Homo sapiens: one gene and its partners. The protein of the gene in region 1 interacts with the protein of each later gene in a pairwise test. Each region holds a gene or a part of one and is shown in the gene's direction. Other genes may lie near its edges.

The links.
Region 2: the proteins of RFX2 (region 1) and FOXJ1 interact in binary tests that used the Homo sapiens proteins (3 or more experiments, as listed by UniProt).
Region 3: the proteins of RFX2 (region 1) and FOXN4 interact in binary tests that used the Homo sapiens proteins (3 or more experiments, as listed by UniProt).

Annotation. Positions count from the first base shown.
Region 1 is NC_000019.10:6,035,605-6,045,646, reverse strand, and holds part of RFX2 (DNA-binding protein RFX2), read left to right. Parts: intron 1-1,364; coding exon 1,365-1,454; intron 1,455-3,523; coding exon 3,524-3,603; intron 3,604-5,405; coding exon 5,406-5,667; intron 5,668-10,042. UniProt on the Homo sapiens protein: Transcription factor that acts as a key regulator of spermatogenesis. Acts by regulating expression of genes required for the haploid phase during spermiogenesis, such as genes required for cilium assembly and function.
Region 2 is NC_000017.11:76,136,582-76,147,171, reverse strand, and holds the start of FOXJ1 (forkhead box protein J1), read left to right. Parts: upstream 1-5,926; 5' UTR 5,927-6,058; exon of another isoform or gene 6,059-6,607; 5' UTR 6,608-6,776; coding exon 6,777-7,274; intron 7,275-9,051; coding exon 9,052-9,819; 3' UTR 9,820-10,590. Other genes in the region: E3 ubiquitin ligase RNF157, read left to right, coding at 1,819-1,937. UniProt on the Homo sapiens protein: Transcription factor specifically required for the formation of motile cilia. Acts by activating transcription of genes that mediate assembly of motile cilia, such as CFAP157.
Region 3 is NC_000012.12:109,276,282-109,286,323, reverse strand, and holds the end of FOXN4 (forkhead box protein N4), read left to right. Parts: intron 1-812; coding exon 813-1,020; intron 1,021-4,384; coding exon of another isoform or gene 4,385-4,425; exon of another isoform or gene 4,426-4,435; intron 4,436-4,524; coding exon 4,525-4,917; intron 4,918-6,393; coding exon 6,394-6,653; 3' UTR 6,654-8,346; downstream 8,347-10,042. UniProt on the Homo sapiens protein: Transcription factor essential for neural and some non-neural tissues development, such as retina and lung respectively. Binds to an 11-bp consensus sequence containing the invariant tetranucleotide 5'-ACGC-3'.

The DNA of each region.
Region 1 (10,042 bases):
AAAACAAAAAGGCAGACAGTGAAGCGGTTTATTTGATGTAGTGTGTATGGTCAGACATCTTTAGCTTTTATTTCTTGCACATATGGCAGTGGGGAGGGCGTCTTGGAAGCCCATCTGAGGTGAGGATCAGACGCCGTCGCCCTGCCAGCAGTTGTGGCCTAATTGATATGTTTCCGTGCCCACTTGAAATTGTCCAAGAGGAGTCAGCCCTCAGGTCTTCCTGCCAAGCCCCTCTCTCAGGCTCTCCCAGGCCTAGGTGGACTCTGCCTTCCTCTGCAGCAGCCACCATGGACAGGTCTCAGTGCCACTCACGGCCACCATGTGTGTCCCAGGTTTCATCACTGTGGTCCCTCTCTGAGGACTTGCCAGGACCCTGTGAATTCTCCAAGCACACGGCGCCCAGCTCACCTGGAATCAGAATGCCCTTGCGCTGGCATCCTTATTAGCACCATCTTCATCCTTAGCTCCACTCCTGCAACACAGGGGATGGCGTGTCCTCACCCATCACCCCTCGTGATGTATATATGGCAGTCACTGCTACCTGTGACATTCAGGGTTCATGCCGGGAAATCACAGCACTGCAGCCAATGACTCCGAAAGCCCCAGCTCTCAATAAACACACAAAACACTCCTGTTCCTCCCTCGACTCGAGTTCACTTTGACCCTTCCCATTTTGATAGCTTTGTGTGGCCAATCGGTACTCCCAGAAAAATAGCAAAGCCACACTGTGCAGATTTGACTTAGGAGGCTGGAGAGCAGTGGGGTCAGAGAGCGAGGGACCCAGACACAGGGCACCTGGACTCGAGTATTCTGTAGCCAGAGGCAGCACTTGAGCCCTCTGGCTTCATTAACCTCATCAGAAAATGGAAACAAGTCCGGGTTATACTGCAGAAGCGAGGGGCGCCACAGAGTGCTCTCCCACGCAGTGGTGCGGATGGCTATCCAGAGGGCCCCAGCAGTCCCCTCTGTACTAGGGACGATCAGTGTCACCTTGCTGCAGACTACAGACCCACAGAGGCAAAGCTGCCTGGGCGGGTGAAGGTGCATGTGCTTCCGTGTATGTGTGTGTGCATACGTGTGTGTGTGCCCACAATTCGTGCATATGTGTGGTGCATGGGCTGAGTGTATGTGCACACTTGTGTATGTATGTGCATTGTTTGTGTGCCTGCACGTACCTGCCGTGTGTCTGCCCAGGTCGGTGTGAGTGTGCAAGTCTGACCATCACCCCGCCGTCGCCTCTGATCAGTCCTGCCTATGTTTTAATAAAAAGCACATGAACAGACAAACAGCATCTTACATTCTGTGTGTATCCTCAGCACTGACCTCTGACAAGTCTAACTGGCCTTCTCTCCCTTCCCTTTTAGAGGGTGTTGGTCCAGGCAGCCAGCTCCAATCCCAAAGGGGCCCAGATGCAGCCGATCTCCCTCCCCAGAGTTCAGCAGGTACCCCAGCAGGTAATGACAAGCACCGCAGCACCGTGCAAACCGGGGCGCAGTTAGCACTCAGCAATCCAGAACAATCTCTGAAGGATGCATCCTTTTCTGTGGCTGCTGTTCCTTGTTGTAAGCTTCAGTTTCTTAGCCAAAAGACTTTTCCAGAAGCTGTGCAATTTTAAAAAAATCATTTACTGCAGATAGTTTTGCAGAAAGCCAAGAAAGCTGGTGATCTTTCGTTCATTCAGAAATTCAGCAAGCATTTGGGGAACCAGTGAGCACCCCGCACCTGCTGGGTGGAGCTCAGGTAGAAATGCAGACAGAAACAAAGGGCTCTGGACTGGAGGAACCATCTGCTAGTGAGTGCCATACCCTCAGATGCGGGCACAACAGAGGAAATGCTTCTTATGATTTCAATTATCTAAGAACAAAGTTTGAAAGCACGGCTGACCAGCCAAGTAGCAACACAGATCATCAGCTTGGGGACACTCTAGAAGCATGGTTAGCAAACTGTTTCCAGAAAAGGCCAAATTATACATTTTTGGGGGTTTGTGGTCCAGGCAGTCTCTGGAACAACCACTCAATTCTGCCATTGTATCGCAAAAGCAGCCATAAATGATATGCAACCAAATGGGTGTGGCTGTGTGCCAATAAAACTTTATTTACAAAAACAGGCAGTGGGCCAGATTTGGCCCTCAGGGCCGGAGTTTGCCAACTGTGCCCTGCAGAATCCTGAATTAAAGTTAACTCAGGCTCCTCCCTAAAAGGAGCCCTGAGGCCCTAGAGAATGCACCGCTCTTCAGGAGGGTCCTGCCTAGATTGGCAGTCTGTTCACAGGCATTTGTCAGGTGACTGTGTCCATGAGAACTAGGAAGGTTTGCAGGATCACAGGAAGGAAAAGGCTCCAGACAGGCCCAGCGGGGACGCAGGGCCTCAGGCCAGTGGCTCTGTCTTAGCTGCTGTCTGTCAAGGCACTCCCCAGAGACACCAAGGAGAGGAGATTCCAGAAGCTTCCACCACTTTTCTGGTGCTGGGCCTGCCCCAGCTCTTTCTGTAACTTCTGCATTTCACTTGGACCCCAGAATTCGACATTTGACTTCCACCCCTGGGGCATCACCCAACAGATGTTAACCCCTGGAACTTGTGATTCTGGGGGTGGTGCGTTGGACAAGTGCATACCATGCTCAGTGGTCCAAGGAGGGGCAGGTCAGCCCCATCCTGCAGCTTCAAGCACAAGAGGAAGGTCACCATGACACCATGACACCCGAACAAGCCCACTTCTGTGGCCCTCCATCTTCTCACCCCAAAATTCAGTGGATGTAGACAGCCACTAAGATGCCCTCTGGGGTGAGAGTTTGAAGTCCCATGTGCAAAGCGTTTGGCTTCCACTGCTCGGACTAGAGTCCCTCGGGGCCTGTCAGCCGAGGCTCTGAACTGATGTTTCAGAGAGGGGAGGGCAGGGCAGCGGGGGTGTGCTGGGGTCCCCCCATTGCCCCATCTCTCCAGGCATGCCGCTCCTTCCCACTCTGTTCAGACCATCACATTCTCTCCCCTCCTCTCTGCCAGGGAAGGGGCACCAGGGCCACCCACGGGGGGTGTTGGGGCCATGTAGAGTCTAATCTGCTCAGCCCCCTGTGCACTGCAGCCTGCACGCCAGCTTGAGCTACAGAGGGAGACCCTGTCGCAAAAAAACAAACAAACAAACAAAAAAAAAAAACAGAAACCAGGGACAGTCCTGTGAGCCAAGGCTGGGCCTCTGTCCACAACTCTAGTTTCCACTGCACTGGAGGAGCGTTGTCATTCTCCTGGTCCCGCCCCCACGTATACAGAGGAGCCAGGGCGCACAGACACGCTAGCAGAGCTCTGGGGATCAGTCGCAGCTCCCTGAACTGTGTGGGCCCGTTTGGAATATGTCGTCTGTACATTACTGTCTCCTCAGTGTCTTTCTAGGCGTGCCGACTGTGGGCGGGAACATTGTCATTTGGTACTAAATGTTCATAAAGGCAATAGAAGACACGTCTAGCTTGAATAATCTGCAGGCAACTCACGAGGGCGTGACTGGCGGTAACGCAGCGTATCCGATGTTTCAGGTGCAGCCGGTGCAGCACGTGTATCCTGCCCAGGTGCAGTACGTGGAAGGGGGAGACGCCGTCTACACCAATGGAGCCATGTGCGTGCTTCTCCCGCGGGCCACACCCGGAACCCTCTCCCTGACTCCAGCCTTTGCCACCTGGGGAGGCATCAAGCAAATTCCTCTCCCTTATGCTTTTGGCGATGTGTTCACTAAATACTGTTAAAATGCTATTAGGAAACTGGGCAATATCTCTACAAAAAATTTTAAAATTAGCCAGACATGGTGACAAGTGCCTAGAGTCCCTCCCAGGTAATCAGGAGGCCAAGGTGGGAGGATCGCATGAGCCCAGGAGTTGGAGGCTGCAGTGAGCTATGATCACGCCTGACTGATGGAGCAACACCCTGTCCAAAAAAAAAAGGAGCGGGGTGGGAGCTGAGGGATTAGGACATCATAACCCTGTGGAGATTTCAGAAATCACAGACTTTTGTACTTTTTACTTTTAGAAAAGATAGTCTTGGAAAAAAAAAAAAAAAGGCTAATCCTAACTCTTCATTCTGAAGTCTCAGTCTTTGAGATCCAGAAACCATCCACCCCTGTGTGTTTTCCCCTCGCCTCTGTTAAACTCCAGCTTTGTATAATGTTGATAGAACTTGATTTTCCATGTTGCAAGGATGTCTAGAGTTTTCTGCTCTGTAACTGTGTGATGCTTGGGGTAGGAAAGTATGCATCTCCCGTGCAGCTCACTTTACTTTAGACGTGAGTCCTTTCGCCTGCTTGTCTGTTTCCATTTGGCCTGGATGGCTCCCCTCACAAGTGCAGGGGCTGTACATGAGAACCTGGCTGTGACTTCAGGGTTGTGATTGGTGGAGTTGTATGATTCTAACCCCAGCCACTGTGGCGGTGCACACCCATCACCCCAGCTACTGTGGCGGTGCACACCCATATTCAGAGGCTGAAGCAGGAGGATCACTTGAGCTCAGGAGGCTGAGGCTGCAGTGAGCTATGATTTTGCCACTGCACTCAAGTCTGGGCTACAGAAGGAGACCCTGTCTCAAAAAAACAAAACAAAAAAACCCCTGGAAATTGACATTGGGGTAAAACTGTTAACTAGCCCACAGGCCTTATTCAGTTCTACCAGTCTGTATGCACGTGCTTTTGCGTGTGTGCTTGCATGTGGAGTACATGTGGCTTTGCATGTTCATGTGTGTACCCTTGCATGTGCGTGCGTGTCTATTTCTTTGCATTTTTAGCCCATGTGTAGATTTGTGTAACAATACCACCATCAAGATACAGAACTGCTCCATCTCCACACAGGAGCTCCCTCATGTGACCCATTTATCCACTTACAATTTTAAGTTTTATTTGTATTTATTTTTTTTAAGAGATAGGGTCTTGCTCTGTTGCCCAGGCTAAAGTGCAATGGTGCAGTCACAGCTCACTGTAACCTCAAAGTCCTGGGCTCAAGCAGTCCTCCCACCTCAGCCTCCTGAGTAGCTGGGACTACCGGCACGCACCACCACACCTGGCTAAATCTTTTATTTTTTGTAGAGATGGTTCTCTCTATGTTGCCCAGGCTGGTCTCAAACTTCTGACCTCAAGCAATTTTCCCACCTTAGCCTCCCAAAGTGCTGGGATTACAGGCGTGAGCCACCACGCCTGGCCTAGAATTTTTAAGTGGTCACTTTTTGATAAGTCAGCCTGTGGTCCTAAAGATTTTGCAACATGGTGGCTGTGAACTTGCGCTGCATTTGAGTGTCATATGCCACGTCCGAATTGCTCCATATGTCTGGCCTCTCTGGGTTGCAGCTTTTACGTGATGTTTGGCTGGATATCTGTGAACTCAGACAAGGCATTTAAATGGGACAGCGTCCCATGCGTGACTTCTCTCTTTCTAACAGACGAACAGCCTACACCTACAACCCCGAGCCTCAGATGTACGCCCCCAGCAGCACGGCTTCTTACTTCGAGGCCCCAGGCGGTGCCCAGGTGACCGTGGCAGCCTCGTCCCCGCCAGCGGTCCCCTCCCACAGCATGGTGGGCATCACCATGGATGTCGGGGGGAGCCCCATCGTCTCCAGCGCGGGAGCCTATCTCATCCACGGGGGGATGGACAGCACCAGACACTCCCTGGCCCACACCTCCCGCTCATCGCCCGCCACGGTATGTAGGAGGCTCTTGGGACCAGCAGGGTAGGCCATGAGTATTCTCGAAGCAGCGGCAGCAGGGATGGTGAGTAAGAGGCAGCCGGAGGCCCGGAGGGGCTGTCGTCTGCTCTGGGCCCAGGCGGCCCCACGATGGAGTCGGGCCAGCCTCAGACGGGCCACGCAACCATAGGCAGGCCTGCAGAGTTCTTTGAACTTCAGTTGGCCATTGGTATAAAGAGGAGGACAAGCCATGCGTCATGGGCTGTTGTGAAAAGGGAATGAGTCAAGCATCTCTCCACTGGTGGATGCTGCAGCCTCCTTTGCTCTTATTATTGTTATCGTTGTTACTATCAAGCTTTTAGAGGCGTGGATCAATCCATCCATGAGACACCTGGACTGAATCAAGCAGGGGAAGTTTCCCTGCAGCCTCTGCCGAGTTCTCGCTGCCATGCCCCGATGCAAAATAACGACTTATCTGCTTTTCCAGAGTCTCTACATTTAAAACTCGATTACCCGTGTTTACTTTTCATTTATTTTCCTTCTTAAATTAACACAAAGTAAAATCAACTTTTTGGTGTACAGCCTTGTGAGTTTTGACATGGGTAGATTTGTGTATAATCAGGTCACAGAACAGTGCATTGCCCTGAAAACCCCCTCGTGGTATTTCTTGGCAGTCACAACCTCCCCCATCCCCAGCCCTTGGCAACTGCTGATCTGTTCCCTATTGCTGTAGTTTCATCTTTACTAGCGTGGTGTATAAATGGAATCGTACAGATTGTGACCTTTTCAGACAGGCTTCTTTTACTCATTCTGGTGCCTTTGAGATTCAGTCAAGTTGCTGCATGAATCCGAGTTGCTTTTTTTTGTTACTGAGTAATATTCTATTACACTACAGTTTGTTTATTCATTCACTAGTTGAGGGCCATTTGGATGGTTTCCAGTTTGGGGTGATTATGAATAAAGAAGCTCTAAGTTTCACATGCAGGCTTTTGTAAGGACATATGTTTTCTTTCTTTTGGATATATACCTACAAGTGGAATTGCTGCTGGCTCATACAGAAAGTGTATGTTTAACTTTATCAGAAACCACCAGTTTCCCAAGTGGTTGCACCATTTTGCATTCCCACCAGCAACATACAAGAGTTCCTCTTGCTCCTCTCCGTCAGCAGCATTTGATGCTGCTGGTGCTCTTGGTTTTGGCCATTCTAATAGATGTGTGGTGGTACCTCATTGTGGTTGCAACTTGCATTTTCTTTATAGCTAATGATGGTAGCAGCTTTTCATGTGAGTGTAGATGCTCTGGTCAGGTGTCACTTCAAGTCATTTGCTTCTTTTTTAACTAGGTTGGTTGTTTTCTTATGGTTGAGTTTTGAGAATTCTTTATGTATTCTGGATACAAGTCTCCTGTCAGATATGTGACTTGCAAATATTTTCCCCAGTCTTTAGTGTGTCTTTTCATTCTCTAAAAAGTGTCCTTTGCAGAGAAAAAAAAAATTTTAATTTTGATGAAATCCAACTTATCAATTTTTCTTCTGTGGCTCATGCTTTCAATGTCATGTCTAAGAACTCTTTGCCTATTTGCACATTATGAAGATTTTCTCCTGTTTTCTTTGAAAAGTTTTATAGTTTTACTTTTGTTTTGGGTTTTTTTTTTTTTTTTTTTTTTTTCTGAGACGGAGTCTTGCTCTGTGACTCAGGCTGGAGTGCAGTGGCACCATCTTGGCTCACTGCAACCTCCACCTCCCGGGTTCAAGCGATTCTCCTGCCTCAGCCTCCCGAGTAGCTGGAATTACAGGTGTGTACCACCACACCCGGCTAGTTTTTGTGTTTTCAGTACAGACAGGGTTTTACCATGTTGGCCAGGCTGGTCTCGAATGCCTGACCTCAAGTGATCTGCTCACCTCGGCCTCCCAAAGTGCTGGGATTACAGGCGTGAGCCACCGCGCCTGACCATAGTTTTACATTTTACATTTAGATCTGCTTCCTATCAAGTTAACATTTGTATAATGTAAGGTTTAAGTTGAGGTTCATTTTTTTTTGCTTATGAAACAATGTGTTGTTCTAGCCTCATTTGTTAAAAAGACTACCCTTTCTCCATTGGATTGCTTTAACACCTTTGTCAAAAATCAGTTGGCCATATGTGTGTGGGTTTATTTCAGAGTGTCCTATTCCATCCCATTGGTCTGTCTGCCTATCCCTTTACAAGTAGCATAGTCTTAATTACTATAGCTTTATAGTAAGTCTAAAATTGAAGAGGATGGTTCCTCCCACTTTATTCTTCAGTATTGCGTTGACTATTTATATAAACTCAAAGTTTCTGTATAAGTTTAGATCAATTTATCTATATCTACAAAGAAATGCTACTGAGATTTTGACTAATTTGCACTGAACCAACTTGGGGAGAATTCCCATCTTTACTATGTTAAGGCTTCCAATCCATGAACATGGTACGTTTTCTCCATTTGTTTAGATCTTCTTTCATCAGCATTTTGTAACTTATACAAAATTCTGTACATGTTTTGTTAGATTTATATCAAAGTATTTCATGTTTGGAGAGCTATTGTAAATGGCATTGTGGGTTTTCTTGGCATTGATCTTTAAATTTCTGTTTCCAACTGTTCATTTCTAGGATTTAAAAAATGGTTGATTTTTGGCTCTTTATCTTGTATCCTGTAATCTTGCTGAACTCACTTTTTTTTTTTTTTTTCTTTTTGAGACAGAGTCTCTCTCTGTCGCCCAGGCTGGAGTGCAGTGGCGCAATCTGGGCTCACTGCAAGCTCCGCCTCCCAGGTTCACATCATTCTCCTGCCTCAGCCTCCCGAGTAGCTGGGACTACAGGTGTCTGCCACCACTCCCGGCTAATTTTTTGTATTTTTAGTAGAGACGGAGTTTCACCATGTTAACCAGGATGGTCTCCATCTCCTGACCTCGTGATCTGCCTGCCTCGGCCTCCCAAAGTGCTGGGATTACAGGTGTGAGCCACCCTTCCCAGCCTGAACTCATTTTTTGGTTCTAGGAGCTTCTTGTTGCCTGCAAATATAACTGCTTTATTTCTTTCTTTCCAATATGGACAAAAAGAAATTTCATTTCTTTTTCTTGCCTTTTTGCACTGGCTAGCACTTGCAGTGAAATGTTGAACAGGGGTGGCAAGAATGGACATCCTTGCCTTTTTCCCAGTCTTAAGGGAAAAGCCGTCAGTCTGTCACTGCTAAGTATGTGATGTTAGCTGTGGGTTTTTCACAGATGCCCTTTTTCAGGTTGAGGAAGTTCCCTTCTTTTTCTAGTTTTCTGGAAGTCTCTATGATAAATAGATGTTGAATTCTGTCAAACGTTTTTTTACATATGTAAGCATCAGCATATTTTTGTCTTCATTGGGGTGTTAATATAATGAATTGCATTGATTGACTTTCAATTACACAATAACTTCTTATTTTGGTGTAAGGCTCATCTCCTGAGATAGAAGGTGGTGGTTTAGCCTTGTCTCTGTGTTTTTGTTTGTTTGTTTTTGGTTCTGGTGTGTTCTGGGGTCACCCTGGCATCAGAGAGGCCCCATGAATCTTGCTGTCCTCTCTCTTCCTTTGTCCAGAGTGACCCCCAGGCCCTGGCTTTGAGGACAGGCGTAGTGCCCCATGCCTCCTCCCTCTCTTCTCGGGAGGAGTCACTTGCTTTCTAGAGGCTGTGAAATTGTAGGGTAGTGTCTGCTGCTTCTACCCCTAGCCACTTAGTGCCTCGGTGCCATTAGCACCCCAGGCCAGGCAGCCCCAGCAGACCAGACATACTTCTCCCGCCTGGGATTGGCTGGGTGGAACTAGGTTTAGTTGTTATGGAACAGAAAGCTTTCCTCGCAGACTACAGTAATTGTCACGAATGTGGCACATTTGACTTAGCAAACGGCATCAACTTATAACAGTAAAATAGACTAGGATTGCAAGTCACAAATTTACTGAGAAACAATCATGTTCTCTGTGGATTCAGAATTACCTCATTGCAGCAAACATACTGCTCAGACCCTGGGCCACCACCCTGGAGCTGTGGTTTGTTATGTGGGTTGCTCTGGAAGAACTAAATTATTAAATCAATTAGAAATCCGTGAATAGGCTATGTTTTCACACACACACACACACACACACACACACACACACACACCCCCCACCAAGCTCTGGGGGAGTCATCATCTTGGATACGAATCTGATTCCTGGCTTCTGACTGCTCTGCTGTTGTTTATTGGCTTGTTGTTGGCATAAGAACATCCAACAAGGATGCCACAGAAATTCGAGACTTTCCAAGAGCCAAGAACAACCATGGCCCTGAAATTGCAACAGAAATACAGCTGCTGGACCCAACATTGGATGTCTACCAGTTCGTTCATGTCAGAGTTTTGTTTCTCGGGAC
Region 2 (10,590 bases), on another chromosome or scaffold:
TGCCACACTTAGACACATAGTGCCACCATTAGAGGTGAAAAAAAACACCTTGACTCATGTCCCAGGCTCCAGTACCCACCCCCAGGGAGTAAAGATCCCAAATTCAGTTTGGATATGAGAGAGAGATCCAAGACTCTCCTGTTCTCACTGTTCCCCTGGGGTCAAGCACCAGAGACTGTTACTAGAGCCTGAGGTGGATTAGCACACCAAGGCATTGATGGAAATAAGCCATTTATACCTGTTGACTCTACATGCCATTAAAGGGTTTCATGTCCTGGGCTGGCCTGAGGCTGACCCTGGACACTTGTGAGTGGCCTCTCTCAACCTCACGGCCACACTCTACAGTTGGTCGGCCTTGTCCGCTGAACAGGTCCTCCTATGGGTCAGGTGTTGTGCTGGGCTCTGGACTGCAACAGTGAAGAAGTCACGGCCCCTGCCCAGGAGGAGCTTTGTCCCATGGAGGAGCTCCAGGACCTAGCGGTTTCTGCCATGTGACGTGTGCGTGGAGCAGTAGTTCAGGCTGCAGGGAGCACTTAGGAGCACACTGGGCCTCCCCCGGCCAGAGATGCCTCGTGAGGGGAGGCCACTGGGAGACACGGCTGGGGAGGCCCACAGGGTCCGGAGGACGACATGCCTTCCCTACCCCAGGGAGCCAGGGGACCCTGAGAGTGGAGGCAGCCGAGGCCCAAGGCAGGAGCGCCCTAGCCTCACTGGAGGGAGGGCACTGGAGGGAGGAGCTCATCTGTGGGCAGGAGATGAAGAGGACTCCCAGGGGAGAGGCGAGATGGCCTGGAGGAGCCTGAGCACAGGCTATTCTAGGAGTCAGATACTCACCAACGCTCGCATTCTCTCATCTAGTCCTCACAGCAAGCCCGTGAGGTCAGTACGCATGTCCCATCTGATGGGTGAGAAAACCAAGGCCCACAGTAAACTGATGTGCCCAAGGTCACACTGCTGTAAACTGGGAGTGGAGCCCAGGTTAGCGTGACTACAGATGGAGTCACAACACGGCCAGGAAGTGAGCCCACAGGAGGCTGTGGAGGATTGGATCCACAGCACAAGGGAAAGAGAAGCACCAAGAATGGGTTTCCAGACAGGCGCTGGCACTCCTCATGTGGGGGCAGCAGCAGATTTGGGGAGCGGATGCGTTTAGTGATGGTATCTGTGGGACCCCGAGGCTCTTGGGCTGGTGTCTGCTGGGCTGATGGCACCAGCTAGTAGCAAACCTCAACAGCTGCGTAGGTGCAGGAGGAGAGGAAAACGGCAGGTGACGGGGACTGGAGCCTCACACTGTCCTCCCTCCAGGCAGCCTTCCATCCCAGGAACCCTGCTGGGTGGCCAGTCCTTTCCTGCCCCGCCTGGGCCCCCACAGAAAACATTAACACTCGGCCAGAACGAACAGTCTTCTCACTTCCCCCCACCTCTTCCTGCCCCAATGAAAATAGCTCAGCAAGGCCCAATTTCCTTTTCCTGTCTATTGTAACATATAGGCAAACTTTAAAACCAAGTAATTAAAATACAAAAGTGGATCCCAGGGTAAGTTCGCAAAACAAGGAACATCTTTCATGTCCCTCCCTGTCCGGGAGCCACAGTGGCAGTGACTGTACCTAGCCCAGGGGGCAGGAGCAGGCTCTGCACCTGTCAGCACCTGCTTCTCTCCGTTCTCACACACGAGTGCTGTGGCTCGCACCGTCATCGGAGTCTCAGGTGACACGCATCCTGCTCCTTCCGTGCCGGCTCCTGGGCTGCCCTGCTGGAGACACCATCTGGATTTGGCCAAAGGTCTGGCTCCTGTAATGTTCATTTTCTCTTCCCCAGGTGCCTGGCAGGCTGATGACAATGCCGTCAGTCGGAATGCCCAGCGCCGGCGCTTGTCATCCAGCAGCCTGGAGGACTCTGAGACGAGGCCCTGTGTGTGGGGCCCTTTGGCTGTCTGAGCCCCAGCCTCTGCACTTGGGCTCCCCTCCTGCCCTGCATTCCATCCATCCTCACTCAGCTGCTGCCTACTGGGCATCCTCAGCAAGATGCTGGAGACTTTTTACCCTCCTGTGACAGCTGTTACAACCTGTAACCACAATCCCTCACCTCTCAGAGGGAACTGGAACCCTCCTTTCTCCGTGTGACCTAAAGCCACTCAATGAACTGCAGCTCACGAGACCTTTTGCAGGGACTCTGGAATGTCCTCACGGTATATTGATGTTCAGGTGGAGCTGGGGTCCATGGGCTAATTTCTTACACATCTTTTTTCTCCTTAGGGGGTAGAACAAGAAGGCTTAGAGTTTGGCAGCTTTGTTACAAACATCCCTCTGGCATTTCCTGGTCTCTGGCACATCATAACCAATTGGAAACCTGCAGTTTGGGGTAGGGCTGGAGGATCGCTCCTGTGGAAAGGGAGAGCCATACTGCACGGACGTAGCGTTTCCCTCTACAAGCACTAGGAGCACCTTTCTCAAGGACAAGAAATGGTAGCAACCAAAAGGTTGGTTGAAGGAAACAATCCTTCCTTCTGGTGGCAGAGCCAGTCTTCTGGGCCTCACATGCCTGTGCGGTTAAGAAGGAGCTCTTGGCCGGGCGCGGTGGCTCACGCCTGTAATCCCAGCACTTTGGGAGGCCGAGGCGGGTGGATCATGAGATCAGGAGATCGAGACCATCCTGGCTAACACGGCGAAACCCCGTCTCTACTAAAAATACAAAAAATTAGCTGGGCATGGTTGCAGGCGCCTGTAGTCCCAGCTACTTGGGAGGCTGAGGCAGGAGAATGGCCTGAACCCGGGAGGCGGAGCTTGCAGTGAGCCGAGATCGCGCCAATGCACTCCAGCCTGGGCGACAGAGAAAAAAAAAAAAAAAGAAGGAGCCCTTGAATCTGAGAATCCCCCAGTTAAGATGATTTCCCTTAAGGAGCATTTCTCCTGATCAGGTGCATTCAGGGAGGCCTGCAACTCCATCCTAAGGTGACATTTCAAGAAACACATGTGTTGACCACCTCTGTGTGCCAAGCACTGGGTGAGGAGTGGTCGTATATTACCATAATTCATCCTCACTCAATTGGGAGGTGGCATTCTTGTCCCTGTTGCCCCCATCTCTACCCCCTTTTGTTAATGGTTGAGAGAAATGTGGACCAGTGATTCTCAGTTTGGTGCCCAGGTCCCCAAAGGAAGTGATGGAGAGCCTTGAGCTAAGTTCAGGCAGCAGCATGTGGCCAGCAGCAGTGTGCTGGGAGCAGAGGTTGGAATCAGGGCTCAGGGCCTTCACTTCAAGGGCCCTCCCCAGCTACTCGGGAGGCTGAGGCAGGAGAATCGCTTGAACTCAGGAGGTGGAGGTTGCGGTGAGCCAAGATCGTGCCACTGCACTCCAGCCTGGGCTACAAGATTGAAAAGATCGAAACTCTGTCTCAAACAAAAAAAAAAAAATTCAAGGCTGTTTCCAAGGCAGCCTCAAAAAGAGCCTGGTGCCCAGGGGGTCCTTCGTTTCTGTGTGGCTGCAGAGGCCAGGAGTGCAGTGACTGTCTCACTGCCTAGTGGTTGTGGCTCACATCCTGCCCTGATGGAGAGGGGGGCCTGTCGTCCAACCCTCTCTGAAAAACTGCAGTAGACTTTACCATTTCAGGCCCCACCTAATGTTCTTTCCTTCCTTCCCCCTACATTCTTCCCGCCCCTTTCATAGTTAAGATGCATAAGCTGAGCAATAACCCCACTTCCTGATTTCCCTGAAATATGAGCCCAGAAGCAGCAGGTGACAGGGAGCTTCCCTTACCCTGGGGTGGTGGCACACAGACCACCTCCTGTCCTGTCCCCTGCAGGTAGTATTCACAGTGTGGTGTTACCTGGGAGGAGGGAGGAAGGAGCTGAGATGAAGGAGATTCAGGTAAACAGTAGCCACAGTGGCCAGGACCCCCTTCCTGAGGATCCCTGTCCTTCCTCGCAGCAGGTGCTTAGTCCTCTCCTAGGGAGAAGCACGGAAAGATTCCTCAAGGCCTCAGTCCCATGTCCAAGGCATACCTAGGTTAGAAATGTCCTTTACTTGTTTCTCAGTTACTATTTCTCCTCTTCCTCCCTCCCCCTGCCTTCTCTTGGCTGTCATTTAGCTCTCTGGCCCACAGAAATACTCCATCCAAGGAGCTGGTCCTCAGTCAGCCTGATGAGGACAGGTCAGTGGCCAACCCTTTTGCCCCAGTCCTTCATCTGGAGACAGTCACATAGTCACGTCAACAGTTCACCCAAAGAGAAGAGGTGGGGCCTGGCTTCTCCCACAGGGCACAGCCTAACTATGGAGACCCAGGGCTCCTTCCTGCTGCACTAGGCCTGTGCTCTCCCTATTGCCTTCAGGTGGTGTGATCCCGGCTTCCTCACAGAGCCCTTTTTTCCTTCTGCCCAGCTCCATCCCACCAGAGTTTCTACCCCCGCTGAGGCATCTCCTGGGCACAGACCACCACACTCTAAGCCGGCTGGCCTGGGAGTTAGGGTCCTGCCCACCTCACCTGGGAGTTGGGGTCCTGCCCACCTGGAGTTTAGCACGCTGGTCGCTCACTTTGCTTTGGTCTGCACACCTGGTGTGTGCATGTGTATACTGCTTGTGCCATCTGTGTACCCCTCTCCCTGGAGTACACTTGTGGTCACACTACAGTGGGGACATCAAGAATGCAATATTTATGGATTGCTGCATGATTCTTAAAAATGAATAAAACTGTTTACAAGGGAAGGAGAGCTAACTGCAAAGTGAGCTTATCTGTGAAAGTTTCTGTCTGACTTTCGCCAGCACTCTTTAATACTTTTACTCAAGAGGATCTGGAGTTGGAGGAGTGGGAGAGGCAAGGGCTAGGGAAAGGCATGTTGGCGGGGGAGTGATGCGCCATAGCCGGGCCTTCTTCATGGTCTGGGCACCAGCCTCCCCGACCCCGGCTCTCCAGCTCCTGGGCAGAGGCGGGGTAATCAACCCAGCCCCCACCACTGCCTCTGCAGCCGCCTTAAACCGGAGAACGTCCAACCCTGCAGCTCCTCAATAATTAAAGAGCAGGAAAGCTGGTGACAGGAGGGAGGCCAGGGGAAGGGAGGAGGAAGGGACACAGTCCCCAGAGTCCCTCTACTCTTAATCCCTGTGACTTAAAGGTTGGTGAAATTAATTGGGCAAATGACCCCGCTAGGAGAATTTGACAAGTCCATGACTTCAGAGTTTTACCCACGGGCTCTGCTTCATCAGCTGTCTCCAGAGGAGTGAGTGCGCTTCTGCAGAAGCCTCTGGAATGTCAGCTTCCTGGAACCTCGAGGATACGGGTGGGGAAGGAGCTGCTTACTGGGACACACTGGATTACCCTACCCCCTTGGTGTGTCTGCCGCCTCTGTGGATGTAAGCGGCAGGTGGCATCGGAAAGTCAGACCTGCCTGGGACACCAGAGAAAGACCCTAAGAGTCGGGGGAGAGGGAAAGGCTGCAGAAACATGAGAAAGTGCCACTCGTAGCGGAGAGGAAAGAAAACCTCAAGGATACGGTTCCCGAGCCTGAGCCCGCTCCCAGCCTTAGCCCCCCAACCCCAGGCTCCGTCCCAGGAGCAGTCGACGCCTCAAAGCGTACGGGACAGGAAGGGGGTGGGGGCGAGAGTCTTGGTTCCCCAGAACGAACGGATCCATAGCGGTTCCCGGTGCCGCAGGCCGCGCGCTTCTCCGACCCCAGCGCGGGGCCCTCGGGCGGGAATGAGCCGAGCCGGGACTTAGCGGCGGGTAGGGGGTTGGGTGGCGCGGGAGAGGGCGGCAGAAGGAGGGAGTTCGAAGAGAGTTGCCGCCAGGGAGAGTGGCAAGTGCCCGCGGTCTCCTTGGAGACGTGCTGGCCAATGGCAGAGGCGGAAGCTGTTTATGGGGGCGGAGCGTCGCCATGGCAGCAGGAGAAGCCTTTGGAGCGGCTACTTAATGCCGGTCCCGGGGCCGCGGTAGCTCAGAGAAGCGCCGTCGGGCGGGGGGGCGGCAAGAGGCGCTGGCAGGGCCCCCGAGCTGGGGGCAGAGAGCCGCAGGGGGTGGGAGCAACTTCTTCCAGAACCTTCCTCTGGCCCGGGCTGCGCTCTGAGCCAGGTAAGGGATGGGGAGGGCTGCAGGCCAGGGGGAAGGGTGGGCAACGGTACCAACCCGCTCTCTCATTCGTCCTTAACGGAAGTGGTGGGCCCAGGGACTGACATCGGAGAAGTCTGGGGGAAACTCGCCTCCTGCCCCCCGTTACTGTTCCGTCCCCTTCCTTCCCAATGATCCCCTATCATAATATTCCTTTTCAAGGATCAGAGGACCTCCACCGCCCCCGCCCCGTCGTACCGCCCTCCCAAACTTCTCGCCCCACTTCCATTTGTTGCGAGGAGGAAGGGGGTCCTGATTTCCTGCTCTTCGGGAGAAAAGGATAGCCTCGGATGCCCCTACCCTCTTCATTTGGCTAATAAAACCTCGAAGAGGAAAGGAAGAGGGAGGCAGATCTGATGGGGGTGGGACCCCAGGGCCTTGCTTCTGTTTCCCATACCTCGGCACTAAAAGATCCTCCCCAGCTGCGGGGATGATGTTAGAGAGGGCGTCCCCGTACACACACTGTCCCCTCGGGGGTGGGGTAGTGCTCAGCTCCCACCGTGGTCCTCGCAGGCACCACATACTTATTCGGAGGAGGCGCCCCCGGGGTCGCGAGATGGAAGCGCGCGTCCGGGAGGCCGTGTAACGGGAGCTGCGGGACTCAGCGGGCCAGAGAGCGCGGCGGGCCACCCCCGGCTCAGCCCGTGGATGCTGACCGCCCCCTCGGAGAGTCCCCGCAGACATGGCGGAGAGCTGGCTGCGCCTCTCGGGAGCCGGGCCGGCGGAGGAGGCCGGGCCGGAGGGCGGCCTGGAGGAGCCCGACGCCCTGGATGACAGCCTGACCAGCCTGCAGTGGCTGCAGGAATTCTCCATTCTCAACGCCAAGGCCCCCGCCCTGCCCCCGGGGGGCACCGACCCCCACGGCTACCACCAGGTGCCAGGTTCAGCGGCGCCCGGGTCCCCCCTGGCGGCCGACCCCGCCTGCCTGGGGCAGCCACACACGCCGGGCAAGCCCACGTCGTCGTGCACGTCGCGGAGCGCGCCCCCGGGGCTGCAGGCCCCACCCCCCGACGACGTGGACTACGCCACCAATCCGCACGTGAAGCCTCCCTACTCGTATGCCACGCTCATCTGCATGGCCATGCAGGCCAGCAAGGCCACCAAGATCACCCTGTCGGCCATCTACAAGTGGATCACGGACAACTTCTGCTACTTCCGCCACGCAGATCCCACCTGGCAGGTAGAGGAGGCACGGGCGGCGGCCGCTCCCTCCCCATTCCCTCCTCGCTCCCCACGCTGCACTGGATTCATATCCCAAATCTGCAGGCCAAGTAGGCTCTGCGGTGCGGCCAGCGCCCCAGAAGGGAGCCCTGCAAAGGAGCCCAGTTCTTGCAACTGCCCCTCCTTTGACTTCCAGAGAGAGAGAGAGAGAGAAGGGAGAATGTCCAGAGGTGGAGGGCTTTAGGGGTGCAGAGGCTGAGATTCAAGGGGAAATAACCTGCCATTCATCCAGCAGGCCCAGGCCAAAGACCAGGGCTAGACTCTGCGTGGACAGAATCTCCTTGGGGAGAGCGATGAACTGAAGGCGCATTCTTGTCCCAAGTCCTAGAATTCCTAGACACTGCCCTGCCCCGGGATGGTTTGTCGGGGCCGGGAGTCAGAAACGGAAACTGGAACGTGGCCTCCCTGCCAGGCTCTACGTCCTGCCCTTTTGCAGTTGGCTTGGGGAGGGTGGAATGGAAGGGGTGCCTTAGCATGTGAGGGCCAGGTGTGTCCCAATGGAGGGTGGAGGGGGTAAGGGGCCTTCCTAAAGCTGCTGTCCCAGCCCCCCACCTCAACCTCTGCTCAGTTTCCTGCCTCCAACCCCCGCTGTCAGCCAACCTCCCTGGGGGGACAATTACCTGAGCCAGGTGCCTTCCACTGGGGCTCTGCCTACCACACTCACTTCGTGTTCCACGTCTCTGGAACCAGGCACTGAGCAGCCAAGGGGCCCAGGCCACCATGTAAACATCCCAGCCTTGCTGCCGGGCATTATCCACCCACCTGCCCTGCCGTCCCAGCCCAGGACCCCTGTCCCCCAGCAGGCTTTGGACAAGATTAAGCACCTAAGAATGGACAAGGCAGGAGGATGGTGGATTTGAGGCTGGGTAGGCAGTGCCCTAAGAGTCTTCAGCCATCACCATCAAGGGCTAGTTGGAGTCAGGGGCCCCCCAAGGACGCCCAGACTCTTCCCTGAAGCACCCAAAGCGGGCAGGCCACAGGACCGCAGTCCCAAGCCATTTCCAATGCCCCTGACCCTAGAGCAGGGTCATTTGCAGCTGCACCGAAAAAGCAGAGACCCTCAGCCCCACCCTACCCTAAGCCTGTGCAGCTGCGCTTCGAGAAACGGGCCCCAGGAATGAGTGCTATGCTCTTAGCTCTTGGCTGGGTAATAATCAACTGAGCCTGGAGTGGGGGGAGGGGGCCGTGGGGGGTGAAGGCCCAGGCCAGCAGCCGGCTCAACAAACAAGGAAAGTCATCAGATCCCCCACCTCTCATCCCTGCGCGCTCTCTCTCTCTCTCCCCCTTCCTCTCCACTCTCGGCTGCCCAGCCCCCTCCCTGGACCCACTCACTCACAGAGAGGGCCAGCCAGGCCCAGGCAAAGGGAGACGGTGGTCCAGGCCCTGGGGGAGCCGAGGGCTTTGGCCAGAGGCTGTCAGCGGCAGGGTGAGGGAGGGAGGGCAGGCGACGGGGGTGGCACCGAGAGCCACCCTGCGGCTCAGAGCTCGGATGACTGAGCAGGCAGATATCCCGGCAACAGGGAACAAAAGCCTCCGACAGCACTCCGGGCTCCCAGTGCCCTGTGGCTGGTGTCCCAGAGCTGCAGCCGCCTGGGCAGACCAGTGTGTCTGTCCCCCCCTCCTCTCCCCTGCCAGAGAAAAGATGGGGGGTGCGCAGCAGCGCCAGGTGCCATTTCATCTCCCCGTCCCCACTGACCTAGCGGTTCCTCTCTCTCTTGCTCTCTCCCTGCACCCAGAATTCAATCCGCCACAACCTGTCTCTGAACAAGTGCTTCATCAAAGTGCCTCGGGAGAAGGACGAACCAGGCAAGGGGGGCTTCTGGCGCATTGACCCCCAGTACGCGGAGCGGCTACTGAGCGGCGCTTTCAAGAAGCGGCGACTGCCCCCTGTCCACATCCACCCAGCCTTTGCCCGCCAGGCCGCGCAGGAGCCCAGCGCTGTCCCCCGGGCCGGGCCGCTGACGGTGAATACCGAGGCCCAGCAGCTGCTGCGGGAGTTCGAGGAGGCCACCGGGGAGGCGGGCTGGGGTGCAGGCGAGGGCAGGCTGGGGCATAAGCGCAAACAGCCGCTGCCCAAGCGGGTGGCCAAGGTCCCGCGGCCCCCCAGCACCCTGCTGCCCACCCCGGAGGAGCAGGGTGAGCTGGAACCCCTCAAAGGCAACTTTGACTGGGAGGCCATCTTCGACGCCGGCACTCTGGGCGGGGAGCTGGGTGCACTGGAGGCCCTGGAGCTGAGCCCGCCTCTGAGCCCCGCCTCACACGTGGACGTGGACCTCACCATCCACGGCCGCCACATCGACTGCCCTGCCACCTGGGGGCCTTCGGTGGAGCAGGCTGCCGACAGCCTGGACTTCGATGAGACCTTCCTGGCCACATCCTTCCTGCAGCACCCCTGGGACGAGAGCGGCAGTGGCTGCCTGCCCCCGGAGCCCCTCTTTGAGGCTGGGGATGCCACCCTGGCCTCCGACCTGCAGGACTGGGCCAGCGTGGGGGCCTTCTTGTAAGAGGCCAGGCCCTGCCCCACCTCTGGACAGTGCCCAAGTCAGGGTCCAGAACTGCCCCCCAACACAGGTCCACAGACACCCCACCACCTAGGCAGGGGCTGGGCCAGGGCTCCAAGGCTTGCCCCAGAGGCCACATGGCCACCAGCCCCAGCTGCCATCAGATTCAAGCCCAGGAGGCTGAAAACGAGGGCCCAGGACCAGAATCGCTGCCTCCTCTCCCCAGCCCCACCTTGTACACACAGTGTTTCATTGCTCCGCGTCTTCCCAGCCCCAGAAACCGGCTAAAGGACCCTGCACCATGAGAGCCGAGGCCTGGAGGAGCCCGGGTCAGGCTGGGGAGGAACAGAACTGGGCCCTCCCAGAGCACCTCCGCTTCCCCCCTGCTTCCCCAGGTCTCTATCCAGAGAGAGTCCCCAGGTACAACAAATGCTAATTAGATGACAGCAAATTAACCCCCTGGAGGCTTCTCCTGGCAGAGCCTCCCTGGGGCCGGGGCAGGCTGTGGATGGGGCGGAGCAGGGCAGAAGATGGACTGGGGGAGGGGGCAGAGAGAGGAGACCAAAATGAGGTGGTGGCACAGGGTGGGGCAAGGAGATCCTCTCTAAGGCCTCTGGGGTCTTTGCCTGGCCCCATCCCTAGGGGGCGGGGAGGGGACGTAAATCCCTAATCTTTAAGCCCGACTTGAGGCTGAGAGCAGCTGGAAGTTTGGGTTTGGTGGTTTGGGGGCCGGGGCAGCCAAGCTGTATGGGGCAGGACAGACAGACTAATGTA
Region 3 (10,042 bases), on another chromosome or scaffold:
GCCTCAGTATCCTCATCTGTCAGGGGTGGAGAATCATCCCAAGCTGGCAGGGTCAGTGAGGATCCTGCAGATAAAGGGCCTGGCAGCTTCCAGCATAGGGTTGGCCACTAGTAGTGTTATCCTTGTTAGCATCAAAGCAAAAAGTGGAGCAGGAAGTTAGAGGGTACACCAAGCTGTGGGGTCCCTGGATTGGACAGTGTCCTTAGCAAAAATACTGCAGTACAGTGTGTGTGCACACATGTACACATGTGGTGTGAGATGCATTGTGATATCTGGTTATCTAGCATTTAAAAATAATTTGCTGGTGGTGCACGACTGTAGTCCCAGCTACTTGGGGGGCTGAGGTGGGAAGACTGTTTGATCCCAGGAGGTTGAGGTTGCAGTGAGCCGTGATCATACCACTGTACTCCAGCCTGGGTGATGGAACAAGACCCTGTCACAAAAAAAAAAAAAAAAGTAAATTTGCATTGAATACACTCGATCAGTTATCCATTTATTGGCATCATTCTTCCTTGCTTGCTTCCTGAATGGGAGAGAGAATATGGAAGATCCAGCAGGCCAGGCTGCATCCTCCTATAGTAACAGTTGGCCAGAGCTGAACTGTAGTTCCCCTCTCATCAGGGCATGGCCACACCAGTTGGCCTCAGTCCCCAGCACTCTCTCTTGTCTCTCCAACTTGAGGCTGAGTGTCAGGCACTGTCAAATTACTCCTGCCACCGCGGTGTCCTGCCCCTATAGGCCTGAGTAGGAGATCCCCGGGGTAGGGGGAAGGGCTTACAGGGAGGCCTCTGAATGCCCATGTGTCTTCATAGACGGCCCCCGACGGGTGGAAGAACTCGGTGCGGCACAACCTGTCTCTGAACAAGTGCTTCGAGAAGGTGGAGAACAAGATGAGCGGCTCCTCCCGCAAGGGCTGCCTGTGGGCTCTGAACCTGGCCCGCATCGACAAGATGGAGGAGGAGATGCACAAGTGGAAGAGGAAGGACCTGGCTGCCATCCACCGGAGTATGGCCAACCCTGGTGAGGGCCGGACAGCCCGCAGTGCGCGCACACACACACACACACACACACACACACACGGAAGAGGAAGGACCTGGCCGACATCCACCAGAGCATGGCCAACCCTGGTGAAGCCGATGCATACGCACGCGCACACACACAAATATGCGCACACACACAAATACACGCACACGCACACAGAAGAGGAAGGACCTGGCTGCCATCCACCGGAGCATGGGCAACCCCAGTGAGGCCCAGATGCACACATGCGCGCACACACACAAATGCACTCACACACCTGTGCACACAAATGCACGCACACACGCAGAAGAGGAAGGACCTGGCTGCCATCCACTGGAGCATGGCCAATCCCGGTGAGGCCCAGACAGCTTGCAGCACGCACACACACACAAATGCACACACAGACCAATACACACATGCGTGCACACACACACGCAGAAGAGGAAGGACCTGGCTGGCATCCACTGGAGCATGGCCAACCCCAGTGAGGCCCAGATAGCCCACAGCATGTGCGCACACACACAAATGCACACAAATGCACAAACACACACACACAGAAGAGGAAGGACCTGGCCGCCATCCACCGGAGCGTAGCCAACCCCGGTGAGGCCTGGATGCACACACACACATGTGCGCACACACACGTGGAAGAGGAAGGACCTAGCCACCATCTACTAGAGCATGGCCAACTCTGGTGAGGCCCGGACAGCCCACAGCGCGCACACACACACGCACGCACACACACGTGCGCACACACAAGTGGAAGAGGAAGGACCTGGCCACCATCCACCAGAGCATGGCCAAGAGGCCCGGGCAGCCCCTAGTGTGTGCGCACACGCACACATGCACGCACACATATGCATGCACACACACACCACGCGCCCCTCCTCCCAGCCCAGCCCCAGCTCTGCCTATGCCCTACCCAGTCTCCAACACTTCTCAGCCAGGATGATGGGAAGACAGGCGTCTGGCAAACCTCCCTCCCTCCTATGAAATAGGCCTCCCCCTCCCCAACCCTATCCAGTGGCAGGAGTAGTAGAGGGGCCTGATCAAAAACAGGAAAAGCTGTTGGATCTCACTTGTCATCCATAGTTTCTTGCCCAGAAATGCCAAACTACACAACCATGGGTTACACATTGCTTTCCTACCACATTGTCAGAGATGTTTAAAATAGTAACACTCAGTGTGGGCTAGGATGTGGAACAATAGAGAGCTTCGTATATAATGGATAGGAATTTAAGCTGTTAAACTTTTTGAGGGAAAGCTAATATATCAAACACCTGCAAATGGTACCCATGGATTGGTCCAATTATTCTACTTCTGATGATGTGTACTGTGAAGAGCAAAGATTTGAGCAGAAGGTTTGTGAACAAAGTTATCCATCACAAAATTATTTCTAAGAGTGAAACACAGAAAGCAGTCCAGACATCTCACAATAGGGGTTGGTTAAATAAATAGAATGGCATACCATGCAAGTATTAGAAATGAGAAATATTTTAAAATATTTTTGGAACATAAATAAATGTTAGGCCGGGTGCGGTGGCTCATGCCCATAATCCCAGCACTTTGGGAGGCCAAGGCGGGTGGATCACCTGAGGTCAGGAGTTCAAGACCAGCCTGGCCAACATGGTGAAACCCCATCTCTACTAAAAATACAAAAATTAGCCAGGCATGGTGGCAGGTGCCTGTAATCCCAGCTACTTAGGAGGCTGAGGCAGGAGAATCACTTGAACCCAGGAGGCGGAGGTTGCAGTGACCCGAGATCAAGCCACTGTACTCCAGCCTGGGTGACAGAGCAAGACTCCATCTCAAAAAAAAAAAAAAAAAAGTTCTCAAACAATAAGTGAAAAGGGGCAGGTTATAATCAATATCCACAGCAAGATCATATTTTAAAATACATATATATCCATATTCACTTCCCTCCCAAAAATGTATGTATCTGAGAGAGAGCGAGTGAGAGAATGAGAATAAATATGCTTGTGTGTTTGGGAAGAAATACACCAAAATCTTTACTGTGAATGGAGAGACCATTGATAACTTTTATATTTTTCACATATTTCTGTATTTTCCAAAACTTCTATCCTGTTCCTAATTAGAAAAAGGATTGCATCTGCTTTTAAAAAAAAAATTAATGGATTTGAGGAGGGGCCATCCAAGGGACATATGCATGGGGACTGTGACGTGGAGGCTAATTGTGCCCCAGCCTTCGGAGTATGGCCAGAGTCTGTTGGGTATCACCATGCGGTGTAGGAATGGGGCTAGCAGTGTGGCTTGGGGATGAACAACTCAAGGCAGGGAGAAGGGCTATAGCAGGAGCCAATGGTCCCTCAGTTGAGGGGGTATGACATCGCGCCCACCCCACCGAGAGCTCTGGGGTCTGGCTTGAGACCCAGGGCCAGTACTGACACATATTCGGAGTGAAGTCTTGGGCAAGTTATTTTGCCTTCTACATTCTAAGTGCTCTCATTTCTCAAATGGGTACAACCCAAATAGATCTGGGGACCCTACCAGTCTACTATCAACCCTGTGTTGCACTCAACAAGACATAGCCATTAATCAAAAATAATATGAGAGTAATTTGTCTTTACTTGTTTATATCCAAGAGTGTTAAGGATTTTTAACCCACAGCAACACTTCTTAATGTCTCTTTAGTAGCAGGGAGTGGCTAGGGCCCCTTGCATGTTAATACATTTTGTCCCAGTCTTATGGGATTTGTAATCGCGGCCTTACCTCCTTCTTGCAGGGCTGTTATGAGATTTAAGTGAAGCCCTAGGGTTACAGGGCTGTCCTGTAAGGCACTGTCCCGATGAAAGATGAAAGGGGCTAGTGTTATTATCTGATGACATTTTTTTTTTAAAGGCAGGGTCTTGCTCTATCACCCAGGCTGGAGTACAGTAGTGCAATCATGTCTTACTGCAGCCTCAACCTCCTGGGCTCAAGTGATCCCCCCACCTCAGCCTCCCAAGTAGCTGGTACTACAGGCACACACCACCAAGCCCAGCTCATATTTTTTATTTTTTGTAGAGATGGTAGCTCACTATGTTGTTCAGGCTAATCTTGAACTCTTGGCCTCAAGCTGTCCTCCTGCTTCAGCCTCCCAAAGCACTGGGATTGCATGAGCCCAGCCTTTGATGTCGTCTCTTATTCCTCAAAGATTCTGCACAGTCTGTGATTTTGTTACATTTCCACAACAACCGTGTGCAGAGGGTATGATGTTTTGCTAGATGGGCAGAGATGTTTAAAATAATAAAATATTGACACCCAGCATGGGCTAGGACGCAGAGAAGTATTTAATAGACACCTTCATTTACAATGGGTGGCAATGTAAGTTGTGAGATGAGATGATGCCTGTGTCATTTCATAGGTGAGGAGACAGAGGTTCTGAGTGTCCAAGAGGCTTGCTAAGGTCACACAGGTGGTGACACTGGAATTTGAACCCAGGCCTGGGCTGGGGCCCGGTAACTGCTGGGTGGGTTCTGAGTGACCTCTCCCACTTGCCTGCAGAGGAGTTGGACAAGCTGATCTCCGACCGGCCTGAAAGCTGCCGGCGCCCCGGCAAACCGGGGGAACCAGAGGCCCCCGTGCTGACTCACGCCACCACAGTGGCCGTGGCGCATGGCTGCCTGGCTGTCTCCCAGCTCCCACCCCAGCCACTGATGACCCTGTCCCTGCAGTCAGTCCCCCTGCACCACCAGGTCCAGCCCCAGGCACATCTTGCTCCAGACTCTCCAGCACCAGCCCAGACCCCGCCACTGCACGCCCTGCCGGACCTCAGCCCCAGCCCGCTCCCCCACCCCGCCATGGGAAGGGCTCCTGTAGACTTCATCAACATCAGCACCGACATGAACACTGAGGTGGATGCCCTCGACCCGAGCATCATGGACTTCGCTCTGCAGGGTGAGGCTGGAGGAATGGAGTGATGGGAATGGAATGGGGAGGGGAGAGGCCCGGGGGCCAAAGGGAGTGAGGGAGAGGACTGTACTGCCTGCATTTGCCCCACAGTCTTGTTCCCATAGCAACAACCTTTACAAGTTGAACATCCCTAATCCGGAAATCCAAAATGCTCCAAAATCCAAAAATTTTTGAGCTCCGACAAGACACTCAAATGTCATGCTCGTTGGAGCAGTTCAGATTTCAGATGTTTGGTTGGATTAGGGATGTTCAACCTGTTATAGCCAATGGCAGCCAACAGGGAATGAGCATTTGCTGTATACCGGGCCAAAGCATTCCATAGGCATCACCTGAGGTCACCACCATTCCACATCCCTGTTCTGCCAATGAGGAAACTGAGGCAGAGAGAAGTGAAGTCACTCACCCAAGGTCACCTGGCTAGTAAGTGGCAGAGTCCGGAGTTAAACCTCGGTCTGACCCCAAAGTTTTCATCAGTAACTGCTTCAACTCACATGTGCCAGCCCCATGCCAGGTCACACTCTGACCTGCTGCCTTGCCGCATGATCATCTCCAATAAATGGGACGTGATGAATGAACGAACAAGGGAATTTCAGGTTTCAGTGAAGGCTCAGACTTCATCCATTCACTAGCACAGGTGCAGCTCTTATGTTCCAGCCAAGGGTGGAGACAGCCTCTGCCCTGAGTTCTGTCTCTAGCGAGGGAAATGGACAAGTGGCAAGTCAGCTGCAGCTGTGAAGTGGGTATATTTGCACCTCCCTGCCTCTTTCCCCCTGGATTGTTGTGTAGTTCAACGTGCTGAAGAAAGAGAAACATTGTCTTGTCCCCCTGGCTTTGACCATAATGATACCATGAGAACTAAATGCTTTTCACAAGTCCTCTTGTTTAACCCGTGCCACAGCCTTAGGAGCTGGGTTCACTGATCATTTCCATCTTATTCTGAGGTTCTGAGATGGAAGTGACTTTCCCAAGGACATTCAGTGGGAAGGTGAGGGCCCGGGGCTGCTGCGACTCTGGCCCTTCCATGCTTTTTTTTTTTTTTTTTTTTTTTTGAGGTGGAGTCTCACTCTGTCACCCAGGCTGTAGCGCAGTGGCACAATCTCTGCTCACTGCAGCCTCCAACTCCTGGGTTCAAGTGATTCTTGTGCCTCAGCCTCCCAAGTAGCTGGGATTACAGGTGTGCGCTACCAGCCCAGGCTAATTTTTGTATTTTTAGTAGAGATGGGGTTTTGCCATGTTGGCCAGGCTGGCGTTGAACTCCTGGCCTCAAGTGATCCACCCACCTCGGCCTCCCAAAGTGCTGGGATTACAGGCTTGAGCCACCAGGCCCGGCCCCATGCCCTTTTTCTACAACACATGACTTAGACACCACACATGGTCTCTGCCTCTTCCCTAAGATGGGGGATTCGAACTCAGGTCATTTGATGGGAAGCCAGCTCACCCTAATGCTTTTGTCTTTGAAAGGGAACCTGTGGGAGGAGATGAAGGATGAGGGATTCAGCTTGGACACACTGGGCGCCTTTGCAGACTCCCCGCTTGGCTGTGACCTGGGGGCCTCAGGCCTAACCCCTGCCTCGGGTGGCAGCGACCAGTCCTTCCCAGACTTGCAGGTGACGGGTCTCTACACAGCGTACTCCACTCCGGACAGTGTGGCTGCATCGGGCACCAGCTCCTCCTCCCAGTACCTGGGTGCACAGGGGAACAAGCCTATAGCCCTGCTTTGAGCTGTCAGCCTCACCTGCCCTGGAACCCCGGCACCCGGCTTGGGCAGAGAACTGACTAGAACAGGGTGTTCCCAGAAGGCAGGTCCCTCATTGTCCCCGAAGCCTCTCCTGGACCTGTGGCGAAGTTGCCGGCTGGACAGGGAAGCGGTTCCCCTCAGCAGCCCCTCTCCTTCTCGTGCCTCCCCCTGGAGCTTCCGGAGCAGTTTCTGGGGGCTCTTCCAAGTCAGAAGAATGGAGGAAGGTGGACAAGCAACCCAGCATCCCCCGACCCCTTGACACTCCTCCGAGGCCTGAGCCGCAATGCCTGCCCGTGTTGAGTGAGACTTCTCCATCCTGGATCCTGGCTGCGTGACCTCAGTGACCTGCACCCCATTTTGGGACACCTTGGTGCATTAAGGAAACACCCTGGGGTGAAAGCCCTTGAATTCATCCTCATGGGAAATGGCTGAGTGGATCAAACCTCAGCCGCAGCCTCCGGGGGACAGGCCCAGGGCGGGAAATGGAGCCGGAGAAGCTTGAGCCTCTCTCTTGGACAGGACAAGCTGAACTCTGAAATGGGAGCCGGTCCAGGTGGCCTTCAGCCCCACCTTTCCGATAGTCTGTTAGAATTTTATTAGCGCAGATTCCTGGGCCATGCCGGGTACCGTGACCTTGTGTAAATTTATTTATATTTATTGTGGCCCATCCACCCCACTTCTGCAAACCCATCCCGAGGCCTCTGGAATGGGACTCCTTCTCCCTCCCTACCTCCCAGCCATCCTAACTCCTACAGGCCAGAGAATGACATCTCTAACTGGCTCATAATCCCTTGGCAGCCTGGGGCTACTTTTTAGAACCAGCAAGCACTGTTGATACTGTGAAACATCCCATTTTTTCCGTATTAGAGACCAGATATTTTTCTACCTGTTCATGATTCACATCTCTTCTTGCATGTACCTAAGAGGGGCGGTGCCATTGTTTGGGGGCTTGGGGGGCTTTCAAAGGGGAAAATGCGATGGGAGAGGGAGGAACTGGAGGGGGGTGCTTTTGTACTGGGATTTAAGACACCCCTGATGGAATGAAAGCCAACTGAACCACGTAAAGCTCGAACCACGTGGCAAGTGGTGGACAAAACTTCAACGCATGATATTTATTGGCACTTCCTCACCTCCCTTTGCCCTGCAGCTGTTTTTATGCTTCTTTTTCTCTCCTTGCTAATTACTGACTCCCCAAGTGGCAAGTTCCGCAGATAGCTGGGTTAGAAGAGAGACAGGGGAGTGAGCTAGTCAAATGTGAAAAATGCTCTCCCAGCAAAGCTGAGACAAAATTGGAGAAGCTGCAGCCTCACGCACCATCCCCCTCTTTCCACCAGATGGATGTTGACTTGGTGTCTGGGAGTTCCCGAACCCTAGAGCCAGGATGTTCTGTTTAATCAACAGCTCAGCCAGCTGCCTGGGAGTTTTGGCATTAAGCCCCGCCTTGAAGGGCGAGCTTTAAGTTTTTCCCAGTTCTGGAACTTTCTACCGAGTATCCACCACCCTTAGACACAATCCCAGTGCTACCCGTCTGACCTGCACTGCTCATCTGCTTTGTGTAACATGACCCCTGATAAGATGTTGAAACTGTTATTCACAAAGACTCCGTGTTTGGGCAACATCAAGACTGTAAGTGTAGAATTGAGCAACTGTCTTCTATCAATAAAGGCTGAATGGCAGCTCTGTGGCTCGTGAGAAGGTCAAAGGGAGATAAAGGATAATGACATCACTCACTCACCCCTTACAGGTGAGATCCCATTTATAGATGGGGAAATTGAGGCCCAGAGAGGTGACACCACTCAGAACCAGGCATTCTGACACCAAGTTCCCATCGCACCAGAAGCTGGGGGAAGTTTTTCATGAAGGTTACAATGAGCACCGCCTCCATTTACTGTCCCTGAGACCTGCTGCTTGACAGGCATCATTTCAGGCAGGGATCGTGAACGCCATTTACCACTCAGAGCAGAGGCTTGGAGAGGTAGGGTTGGCTGAGTGTGTGTCCTGGAGCTCAGTGGCACAGCTCAGGTGTGTACCTCATGTCAGAAAAGACAAGATGGAAAGAGACACACCCCTTCCAGCACCTGCTATATGCCAGGCCCTGCACTAGTCACTGCTGTAAATTAGCTCATTTGGTCCTCATAACAGCCCTAGGAAGCATGTCTGATTTGTTACTACACCCATTTCACAGATGAAGAAACTGAGGCTCAGGGGAATAAAGCAGGTGACTTGCTGTCCAAGATATAACAGGCAAAGGATGTGTTAATTAGGAGTCTAACTTTTTTTTATTTTTTGAGATGGAGTCTCGCTCTGTTGCCAGGCTGGAGTGCAGTGGTGCGATCTTGCCTCACTGCAACCTCTGCCTCCCAGGTTCAAGCGATTCTCCTGGCTCAGCCTCCCGAGTAGCTGGGACTACAGGCAACACCACCATGCCCAGCTAATTTTTGTATTTTTAGTAGAGACAGGGTTTCATCCTGTTGGCCAGGATGGTCTCGATCGCTTGACCTCGTGATGCGCCCGCCTCGGCCTCCCAAAGTGCTGGGATTACAGGCAGGAGTCTAACTCTTAGGCCCACCCAGGAAGTGGCCTGCAGCCTCAGGGGAGACCAGATTCGTGCACATGCAACGTTTCATGAGTGAGGAAGTTTGTCTGGGAGGATGGGCTATGGGTGGTGTCAGGAAGTGCTTGGTGGAGGCCAGGCATGGGGTAGGGAGAGGGTGCCTGCGGCAGCCTGGCTTTCTCTGCCCAGCACCTGTAACATCCTCTCTTGGCTTGGCTCCTAAATGACCCTGTGAACCCAGCCTGGCCAAAAAGAGCATTGCATCCCCCAGCCACCCTCTGAAATTGGCTGCAGTGGGGAACAAGTGACCTAGGCCATGGTGTTCACAGCCAATGAGCATACCCCAGGGACTTTGCAGGAGCTAGGGGACAGGGGCACCCTCCATATCCTGGAGTGCTCAGCTGGGAGAATGGAGCCCAGCCACTGGGTCACCACCAGGAAAGGGCTGGGAGCCACAGTTGAGTCTGACTTCTGTTCCTGGCCATGGGCAAGGGGGAGTCAGGTGTGCAGAGTCCAGGCAAAAATGCCAGGGTCACAAGCTCTAGGCAGAGCTCTGCTCACAGCCAGAGTGCCAGCTGGCCATGATGACACCAGAAGAAAGCATACAGGAGACATGGGGGGAATGAGACTCCTTCTGGGGTTGAGCAACTAATGGGAGAAAAAACGCAAATTGCCGTCATGTAAGCACCTGCCGTGTGCTGCACAGAGTTCAACACTAGTCAGGCAGCATCTCCCCGGAACCGCACCACAGCCTGCACAACCAGTGGGATGTTCCCATTTCCCAGATGAGGAAACTGAGGCTCAGAGATCATGTTTCT